3 linked regions of the Homo sapiens genome follow. The protein of the gene in region 1 interacts with the protein of each later gene in a pairwise test. Each region holds a gene or a part of one and is shown on either strand. Other genes may lie near its edges. The genes, in order: BAG3, PTPN21 and PRDM6.

The links.
Region 2: the proteins of BAG3 (region 1) and PTPN21 interact in binary tests that used the Homo sapiens proteins (3 or more experiments, as listed by UniProt).
Region 3: the proteins of BAG3 (region 1) and PRDM6 interact in binary tests that used the Homo sapiens proteins (3 or more experiments, as listed by UniProt).

The regions. Positions count from the first base shown.
Region 1 is NC_000010.11:119,675,321-119,678,487, reverse strand, and holds the end of BAG3 (BAG family molecular chaperone regulator 3), read right to left. Parts: intron 2,025-3,167; coding exon 1,206-2,024; 3' UTR 669-1,205; downstream 1-668. UniProt on the Homo sapiens protein: Co-chaperone and adapter protein that connects different classes of molecular chaperones including heat shock proteins 70 (HSP70s), e.g. HSPA1A/HSP70 or HSPA8/HSC70, and small heat shock proteins (sHSPs), e.g. HSPB8.
Region 2 is NC_000014.9:88,552,621-88,556,447, forward strand, and holds the start of PTPN21 (tyrosine-protein phosphatase non-receptor type 21), read right to left. Parts: upstream 2,076-3,827; 5' UTR 2,031-2,075; intron 1-2,030. Other genes in the region: proline-rich protein 2-like, read right to left, coding at 2,076-2,440.
Region 3 is NC_000005.10:123,087,016-123,090,615, reverse strand, and holds the start of PRDM6 (putative histone-lysine N-methyltransferase PRDM6), read right to left. Parts: upstream 1,376-3,600; 5' UTR 1,097-1,375; intron 617-1,096; 5' UTR 602-616; coding exon 10-601; intron 1-9. UniProt on the Homo sapiens protein: Putative histone methyltransferase that acts as a transcriptional repressor of smooth muscle gene expression.

The sequences.
Region 1 (3,167 bases):
AATAGTGGGAGCTGGCTTCCCTGTGCGCTTCCTTTTTTAATTTTTAGAGACAGGGTCTCAACTCTGTTGCCCAGGTTGGAGTGCAGTGGCGGGATCACAGCTCACGGCAGCCTCATCTCTTGGACTTAAACTATCTTCACGTCTCAGCATCCCTGGTAGCTTGGGACTGAAGACGCATGCCACCACCTGGCTGATTTGTTTTTTGTAGAGACAGGGTCTTGCTATGTTGCCCAGGCTGGTCTCAAACTCCTGGCCTCAAGGGATCCTCCTGCCTTGGCCTCCCAAAGTGCTGGGATAACAGGTGTGAGCCATTGCGCCAGGCCCTCTGGGCACTTTTGGACAATCTCAGCTTCTTGGTGAGGCCTGAGGACAGGTGGGCAGACATGCTACCTAACTGGCACCTTGGCTGTTGGCTGGGTCGGTCCGAACGGATGCAGCAGGCATGTTCCCATTACCGGAGTTCACAGCCCTGAGTCTTCCCAGGTTCCTGTTGCAATCTGAGACTGAAAGGTGACCAAGACAATTCTCTCTTGAGCCGGGCTATTGGAGACGTCACAAAACCCAAAGCAGGCTTGTTAAATGCACCTGTCATTTATTCTGACTGAAACCAGGGACAGACAATCTCCATGATGCCACTGCTTTCAAAGATTTAGAAACCACAAAAACCATTTTGAGTTATATTATTACTTTATTTTCTTTTTTTAAAATGTAGCATTAAAGTCATCCAACATACAGATATTCCTATGGCTCCTGGCACATTTTACTCTCTCTAAAGTCAGGTATTTTAATTATGAGATGAAGAAAATCATCTCATTAAAATGGCAACATTTCTGATAAATGTTTCATATTTATGTGATGGGTAATTGACTCCCCATCTACCCCTCCAGTCCAGAGCTACAAAAGACAGTGCACAACCACAGCTAACAGGTGGTGGGGGTGCCCAAGTAGACAGGGCTGCAGAACAACAAGCAACGGGGTTAAACTTCTCAAACAACAAGCAACTTCTTTATTTGTACAGAGTAAGAATATAGAAGAAAAGCATCATTTTCCTTTTTAGCCCTTTTATTAGTGTTTTGCCTCCACCCAAGTTACTGCATACCAAGCAGCTAATAAAAACCAACTGACTTAAAGTCTCTGAAATGCATGCAACTTAAAATTCCCTAAAGCACACATCGGTTCCGAGTCTGATTTTTACAGGGCAGAGGCTACGGTGCTGCTGGGTTACCAGGGGTGTCTGTCATGCTGCTGGGGTTTGAAGTCGCTGCTGCTGTGGCTTCTGGCTGCTGGGTTTCTGTGTGGGGATCTTCTGCATTTCCAGCATTTTTCTTGCCCTTGTCTGCTGCCACGGCACCCATCTCCATGATTGCCTGCAGTGGCTGATCTGCTTCAAGGTTGCTGGGCTGGAGTTCATAGACCTGGACTTGACCTGGGACATCAATGGCTTTCTGTTCAAGTTTTTCCAAGATGGTCTGAACCTTCCTGACACCGTCTCTCCTGGCCTGACGCACATCGGCTCGTCCCTCGGGGTCCACTGAATCCAGGGCCAGCAGCTCTTTGGTCAAATACTCTTCGATCATCAGGTACTTTTTGTCAGTCTTCTTGCCTTCAAAGTTGTCTACAGCCTGCTCCAGCCCCTGTACCTTCTCCAGGATGGCTTCCACTTTCAGCACTCCTGGATGTTTTGGGGGAGCCTCGGCTTCTCCTGGTTTTGGAGGTGTAGCTTCTGCAGGGGCAGTGCTGGGGGCTGCCCTCTCTTCTGTAGCCACACTCTTGGGGGAAGAGGGGACAGCAGAAGGGCCAGGGCTGGGAGGAGGACAAGGAACTGGAGCAGGGGGAACTTTCACCTCTACCTTCTCAGAGGGAGGTGGGGGCTTCTGGGAAACAGGTTTAGAATCCACCTCTTTGCGGATCACTTGAATTGGGATGTGTCCAGGAGGGAGTTCTGGTCCAACTGGGCCTGGCTTACTTTCTGGTTTGTTTTCAGGCTGGGAAACAGGTGCAGTTTCTCGATGGGTCATGGGCTGCTGAAAAAAGGACACAAAAATATATTTTTAATAACTGACTGAAAGTCACAGAAATTGTTTGTAGCTAGTACAGATTAGAAAGAAAACTGAGAAATGGCTTTTTAAAAAAAGTTTAATAGTATAAAAGATTTTCAAAGTCAATCAATGGCTGTTACAAAATAAAAACATGGTATTAATCATGTATGTAACCCAATCATTAGTCAGGCTTCCATTGATCACCCCAGGCTATTTGTCTATTACCTCTCACTGAATTTCTCTGTAGATGGTATTCTTAATGGCAATGAAAAGAAACCCAATAAAATTTTCAAAAATGAAAATAGCTAACCTGGGCAATATAGTAAGACCCCAACCCTACAAAAAATCTTTAAAAATTAGCCAGGTGTGGGAGCTTGCACTCGTAGTCCCAGCTACTCAGAAGGCTGAGGCGGAAGAATCGCTTGAGCCCAGGAATTCAAGGCTGTAGTGAGCCACGATTATGTCATTGCACTCCAGCCTGAGTGACAGAGCGAGATCCTGTCTCAAAGAAGGAAGGGAGGGAGGGAGGAAGGAAGGAAGGAAGGGGGGAAGGAAGGAAGGAAGGAAGGGGAGAAGGGGGCAAGGGGGAAGGGGGCAGGAAGGAAGGAGGGAAGGGGGAAGGGGGAAGGAAGCAGGGAAGGGGGGAAGGGGAAGGGGGGAAGGGAGGGGGAGGGAAGGAGGGAAGGAAGGAAGGAAAGAAGGAAAAAAATAGCAAAAACTCATGCTGACTGCTGAACTAGGCTGACTCAGAGCAGAGTCCTGAGTGACTCCAGCTCTCAGGTGTTGCAGCCTTGGAGTCGCTGCCTCTGGTCCTTCTTCCTTACACTGTGCAGACAGTCTGCTCACGGTGTGATCTTCTTGTCTCCTGTTTTAGAAAAGATACGATCTTCTTTTTTTAAAACCGTGACAGCCTAGTAGTTTCTGCCCAGACCAATGTATTTTTTTAGGATTAGCCAAGATGCTCTAAATGGTTAACTCCAGAACAATTTTGCTTCAGGATAGCTGTGCTGTAGCCTAACATTCAGCAATGACACAGCGCCTCTGTGCTAACCTCTGGCTGCACAGGTTTTCCTGTGACTATAAACTACAGCCATATAGATATATAGATTTTTGTGGGGGACAGGGTCT
Region 2 (3,827 bases), on another chromosome or scaffold:
CAACTACCTAAAGCACTGTGTTAATTAACCGCATTTGCTGAGTGCCTTCTGTAGGTAAAAGCACCATACTATGGAGGGAAACAGAAAATAAGTATTAAAAGATATGGTTTCCACTTCCAGTAGTTTTCAATGCTCTTTGCTGTTTCAGGGGTATAAACTAAATAAGTAAAGCAAGATGGAAAAAAATTAGCAAATGACAACTTTAAATAATAAGCTTTTAACTAGAAAATTGATAAACCAAGAGTAAATATTTAAGGATTATAAATATGCATACTAAACACCCTTTCATGAGATCAGATGGTGGGTTTCAATTTTACATAAAAATTATGGTAACTGGAAACCGGGCGGATTAAGTAGTGTAGATGAACAGACAAGATATTGCATATGTGTAGAGGAAAGATAAATATTTGTATTAGGTGCCATTCAAATATGGTAGTCTTTTCACTACATAGAACTATGCCTTGAAAGCAATAGATACTACACTGTATAACTTAATTATTAACTTAAGCTCTGATTAAGCAAACTCAGTAAAACTTTCAATTGTCCCTCAGACTTGAAATGTATTACTGCATCAGGGATAAAGGAAAAGTCAAAATTATCTCTTATTTTGGTAGATGAAATTGAAAAAGTTGCAGTGTGTGTGTACATGGTGCATCCCCCCAAGATCTATCCATAAGAATGGCTTGCTTTTTGCTTATTTATATAAAACCCACTATGTTAAAACAATGATTTTGTTTAATAATTTACAAATTTATCAATGATTTATACATCTTAATTTTCAGTAATATGCAGTATTTGTTGCCAAATGGTGTAATACAATTATGAATGTCTGAAGATAATAAAACCAAGATGAGTAGAAATTTAAGAGTTCTTTGGGGAGGTCTGTTTCAGGTATAAAATAATATGCAATAATATGAAAGTGATTGGGTCTGGAATTATAATTTACTAAAGTAAACATAATTTATAAATAGCTATTAAAGGAAAACTAGGATATAATTTTTTCTCTACAAAATCTTTCCGTTTTGTGGTAAGTAAACAGATACATACTAGATTCTGCTTCAGTACAAGTTTACAAAAGGCAGTCTGAACTATTTGTGAATTCATTTTAATTTTCCCTCTCTACAACCCTTTCCAAAAGTTCCTCAAATACACTTTACCTCTCAATCTTACAGCGTTTCCCCTTTCCTATTAAGGTCCTTACCACATGTAATTTTGCCAAAGTTGCTTTAAAATAAAATAAGCACTAAAAGGAGAGAGTATGTGACATTTTTAGAGTAATATCTATAGCTATAGCATTAAACCCATGTTTCTCACGGAGAAAACATCTGTGCGTAGATGCTCCAGAATAAAATGCCCTAGAAACGAAACGGACTATATTCAGAGTAAAATTACTGTCGTGTCCCAAACTTAAAAAAATAAATAAACTGTCAGCAACTATTAGGCATACAGCAGTTGTCACTTGGAGCACACGAATGTTCTGAATGTGTTTGTGAGCATACGCTATTAGTATAAGGCTTTCTCAGCAAAAAAGAAAATAGGACGAGCATGCCAAGAGCGGCCAATCTAATCAGGATTTGCAGAAATCACAAGTCGGAATTTGCAGATCCAAGAATTCTTGTTTCCAGAGTAAATACTCTACTCCAAAAACAAACCCAGGCGTTACCAAACAGTCCTTCCCTGCGCCCCTTCTCGCCAAAGTTATCTGGCGAATTTCACGTTTATATATTCTGAGAGGCACAAATATGCCTAACACATTTAAAACCCTGATCCAGAATTAACCCGCAACAATCGGCCAGGGCGTTCGGAATAGAAGTTCAAGACTCCTTTTAGAAATTACTCAAGTATATGAGAGCGAACCTGAAAAACAAGACTTTTCTCTTTGTTACGCTCCCGCTACGGGTCTGGCCGCCGCGCCCCATTCTCCGGGATTCCGGGGCCGCGGGCGCGCTCCGGGGTCCGGGCGAGTGGACACACCCCACCGCTCGGGCCAGCCGCCCGCCCCTCCCGCCGGCCGGGGACCGCGCCCTCACCTGCTCCCGCTCCCGCTCCCGCATCCTCGGGGCCGCGCGCCCCGCTCAGCGACCCGCCTCCCGGGGCCCCGCCGCGCGGCCGCCGCAGCCGCACCCGCACGCCAGCCCGGGCCGCGGCGCGCTCATGGGGCTCGCACGCCTCACTTCCTGTCTCCAAAAACCCGGCTCGCAGACCATTCCCCTGGGCAGAGTCCGGCGGTGGCGACGGCGAGGGGCGAGGCCTGGAGGTGGGACCGGCCGGCGAGGAGCGCCGCACAAAGAAGCCCCGTGGGGGCGGGGGGTGGCAGGAGGACGGACAGACCGTCGGACCGACGCGGGACGCGCGGCCGGAGCAGCGGGGCGGCCGGGCCCAGGCGTCCCTCCCCCTGAGCCGGGCGGGCGGATCCGGGGAGGCGGCGGCGGCCCGTGACCTCAGAGAGTTGGAATGCGGGCAGCCGCGCGGGGGAGGCGCGGACAGCTGCGCCCGGCCGCCGGGGAGGGGGCGCGCCGCTGCTTTTTTTAATCGTATGACCACTTATTTTAAGAGTTTCCAAATAAAGCAAGGCTTTTAATAAAATGAGTGGAGGGGGTATTATTTAGGTTCCAGATAAAGGGTTTTATTCCTGTGTTATTAGGTAGGCTGTAAAATGCTGTTATTGATGGTTATTCGTTTACTCTGGTATATTTCTGAACACTATTGGAATACATTTCTTCTTTTCCTGCTTGCTCCTAAGGTTATGCCCCATATAACTAGACACTTCCAGTACTGGGTGGGAAAGCCCCCCCACCAAAAATGGTTCATATGCCTCAAATAACCTGTCAGTCCCCAAAAGGGAGCTGTCTGCTTATGCAATATAGAGCAGAACTGTTAAGGATGGAGACTTGACAAAGTTGTCAAATCCCAGCTCCAACATTTACTAGCTGGATGACCTTGTGCAAGTTTCTTAACTTCTCTTTACCTGTTTCCTCTCCTATAAAAGAGGGATATTAATATCTTTGCACAGCAGGGGTGGGGGAAATAAATACTAAGCAATATCCAATAACTTGTGTAAAGTATATATGAAGTGTTTCGTTTAAGGTTTATTATACAGTATTCTTGTACTGCATTATTACTGTATTGCAGCACTTAAGCTGAGGAATAAAACTGTGTGACCCTACCACTATTACAATAGTGTAAGATCTTTTCTTGGCATGTGGAACACAGAACCTTTTAATTTATGTAAATTTTAATTTCAGTGATTTTGTTTTAATGCTGTTGTTTCTGGAAAGCTTTTTAAAGTATTGTTTCATGTAAATCTCATTTTCTTAAACAATTAACAAAAACTTTTGAATACTTAACTCTGCATGAGACGTGGTCCCTGCACAACACGGACTTTTGGTTTAGTGGGTGATAAACGCACCTGCACACCACACACGCAGTACAAGGCCAAAGTGGGGAGCATTGTCATAGAGGTATGAGTGCTATCCAAGAGCAAAGCCCAGCAAGGTGCATCTTGGGTCGTTTAGCTAAAGGCAAATAAGATTACCTGTGTTTCTAAGGGAAAAAAAATAGATCAATTCTGTTTGTAATTGATATTTCAACTGAACTCTATGAGGGGGTCAATTTGTGTGTGAGCAAAGAAAAGAGATCTAAAAAGAAGTCACTTTGCTGGCTTCCCAAGGTAGAAAAACTGGAATCATGTGTGACTTCTCCCATTATCATCTCCAGCCTGTCATCAAGACCTGGTATTTCCTCCTTTGAAATGTCTCATGAATTCTTTGTTTCCTTTCTGTTCCCCCTGGAACATTCTAAATCCAAACCCTCATCATTTTACATCC
Region 3 (3,600 bases), on another chromosome or scaffold:
GCTACGTACGGTTGTTGGGGTCGCTGGTGTGCTGGTTGAGCGGGATGATCTCCATGCGCTGCTGGCCATACAGGTAATAGTCCAGCTCCTCTGCGCTGCAGCGGAAGCGCGGGGCGCCGCGACCCTCCCCGCCGCCGCCGCCACCACCACCGCACTTGACGGGCCCGGGGCCGGAGGTGGCGCCGAGGCACAGTTCCTTGGGGGGCAGCGGCTCGGCGGCGACGGCAGCGGCGGCTAGAGGCGCGAACACCGGCAGCTGCGACACCGGCAGGGCCGAGAGACCAGCCAGCGCGGCGGCAGCGGCCGCAGCAGCGCAGGAGGAGGCGGAGGAGGCGGAGGTGGAAGAGGAAGCCGGCGTGGACGAGGCGGAGGAGAGAGAGGCGGGCCGCGGGCGCAGGCTGTCCGGCGGAGGCTCAGCGCGCTCCGGGGGCGGGGGCGGCGGCGGCGGCTGAAGAGGCTGCGGCGCGCTCAGGAGACCCGCGGCGCCGCTGCCCTTGAGCGGGCCTGCGCCTCCGTGAGGGAAGAGTTGCTGCCAGTGCTGCAGGTAGGCTGGGTCCACTTTGAGGAAGGCCGAACCGCCGGGGTCTCCGGGCTTCAGCATGTCCGGCGCCTCGAACTGGGGGCAGAGGGCAGGGAAGAGGGGGCGCGTGAGCTGGGCGAAAGGGGCCGGGAAGAGGGCCACTGGGACCCTGGAGAAAGTGCCCGAGCCGGTGGTTCAGCCGGCGGCCGCCCGGTTCCGCGGCTCCCTCTTCCCAACTCCGCTTGGGCGCAAAGTTTACTCCGAAGCTGCGGCGCCGCACAGAGGGAGCTGTGTGCACCCTGCTCTGCCTCCCCGATCGCAGCGTCCAGCTCCCATCCAGCAATGCTGGGGCCCGACAGGAGGGCGCTGCCCCGTAGAACTCGGCTGCAGGACGCAGCCCCCGCCCTCAGCCAGCGCCCGGAGCCGACCCGAGCCGGCGTGGCGCAGCGCCCGAGCCGCGTTGGCCTCAGGCGCCAGGAGGCAGAACAGTCTCGCCGCCCGCCCCCAACCTAGGACCACCAACCTTCCTATCTACCAAGCCCTAGACTCTTAAGTCCCAGACCAGCCTCACCTTACCTGAAAACTCGGTGCTGCCGGTGGGTGCGTGCGGGTGTCTCGGTGAGCGTGCGGGTGCGCGAGAGTGTGCGCCCTGCGTGCGCTACATGCCCCTGAGCAGCGCGGGAGGAGAGTCCTAGAGATTGTGCCGCCCGGAAACCTCCCGACCTGCAAGCGAGAAAATTGGGAGGCCCGCGGAGGGCGCGAGAGTGCGGACGGACCTGGGCGCCCGACTCAACCGCCGTGGGCTGCTGCGCTTGGCCGCTGCCGCGTCCTGGCTCCTTGGTTCCACGCTCTGGCAGCTTCCCGGCTGGACACGTGGGTTTTACGACAGCACAAAATAGAGTGAGTGTGTGTGTGTGTGTGTGTGTGTGTGTGTGTGTGTGTGTGTGTGTGTGTGTGTGTGTGTGTGTGAGAGAGAGAGAGAGAGAGAGAGAGAGAGAGAGAGAGAGAGAGAGAGAGAACGGAGGGGGGAGGGGAGGCAGGCCAGAAGAAGGGGAGGGGAGAGGGAAGAAGGAAGTTCTAATTCGGCCCGACCCACATCGCCAGAGCGCCTTTCCCGCACAAACTCCTCCGCCCTCCCATCCCCTGTTTTTTTGGCGTGACGTCTGCCGCTAGCCTGTTGTCTCTTTCTGCCCATGATATGTCTTTTCTGGGTCCCAGCTCAGTGCCCTGATCTTGAAAGCAGTGGAAATGCGGCAACGGGAATGCATCTCCGCACACGCTGTGGTGTCCGCGCTGGAGCAAGCCCGCGCCGCCAGGACCGGGTTTGCGCTTTTGCCCGGCTCAGTTTTTCCTGAAGTGCTTCTGGGTGCCAGAGTCCACTCGCCCGCCACGCAACCTCTAACATAAATCCTCCGGGGAGAAAAGTTGGGGGCGGAGCGGGACGGGTTGCGCGCTGCAGTGAAACCCTCTGTCTGCAGCCCAGGAGGGAGGCTTGTCGGTGCAGGGAGGCGTAGGACCGAGGGTCCTGAGACCGAGAGCAGCTGGTCCTGGAGGGACTCAAGCTTGGCCGTGGGGCTGGGAGGCGGCTGCAATGGAGTCTGCACTCCACCCAGCGCTCTGCTGACCCCTTCTCGGGTTGTCTTCTGGAGGGCTCTTTCCCTCTCCTTCTTGGGGCCCGGAGACAAGTATCCAGTGTTACGTCTGGTGGCACAACTGCTCCGGGACACGGGCGAGGCTGTTTGCGGTCAGCTGCCTGCGGCTGCCGCAGGAGGTCACGCATAGGTTTCTCTACCCAAAACCTGGTGTTAGAGGGGCAGGGTGGGAGTGCAGCCCCACCTCCACCATGTCCTCTCCCCAGACTTTGTGCCAGGGCAGCCCTTCGATGCAGTCTCGCACCCACGAAGGAGGCACTTGCCCCCCAGCTCTTCCTGGCATTTTCGGTAGTAGATGGTAGAGGGCACAGGCAGGGTGTGTGAAATTGACCGACTCAGGAGGTACTTTCCCATCGCCGGGGTTCTGGCCATACCGTAAAGAGAAGAAACGGCATTTATCTTTTTCCAAACAACCTAACTTATTTAGCACTTGCCAATCTGAGCAATTAATAGCCATTCTTTCCTGATTTCTGCTTGTTTCTTTTTCTCTTCCCACCACTCAAGTTTTCTGAACCTGGGAAACGTGCTGTTCAGACTTCATCCGGGTCTCATTCAGGATGCTTCGATGTTGGTTGGAAGAGAGTTAGACCGAAAATGTTTTGACTGGCGTCGTTATGACAAGGTCATCCGTCATTGTTGGATAGATTGATAGCACCCAAGTTTAAGGCAGACACCACGAGGGAAAGCCCACGGCGCTGTGGTCCCGGAGGCTAACCAGGCAGTGTCCGCAGACCTCCAGCAACTCCATCGGGAGGAGAGGATGAAGTTCCAGGCCCGTTTCAATTAATCTGCTCGCAGAACTGCCGAAGAGTGGCTTGTCGGGCCACGGGAGAAGAAACAAATGCTCTTTCTCACACTCTCCTGGTTCATTGCTGAGAAACCAGGACACTCCTCTGTTCCCTGGGAGAGACAGTGAACTCCAGGGATGGAAGTCCGGACTCCGGCGGCGGTCCCGTCATTTGCCTTCTTGTTTCTGCCCAAACCCAGCTAGTTCCAAGCGCTTGGTCCCCAAGACTGGAAGTCCCCAAGAACCTACCTCTACCTGTCCCAACCCTGCCTCCCCCCTACCCTTTCACCCCCTGCCACCATTAGAAAGTCTCTGGATTTTGAAATGCTAGTTGCAGCAGCTGCTTCCGTGGCCTCATGCCGCCCACACTCTGGGAAGCGGAGGAGGGAGGGTTCCTCTCGTAATAAGATTAGCTGACCTGTTAATGAGAGTTTTGGACGTGCCGGGCGGGGGTAGGCGCTTTATGTCCATTTAATCCACCTACATGCGGAGAAGGCATTATCATTAACCCCCATATTGTAGATGGGGACCGCTGAGGTTCGGAAAGTTTAGATGGGTTGCCTAAGGTCACGCCATTAATGAGTAATGGAGACGGATTCAAATACCGTTCGGTAAGGTGCCAAGTGCATCTTCTGCCTACC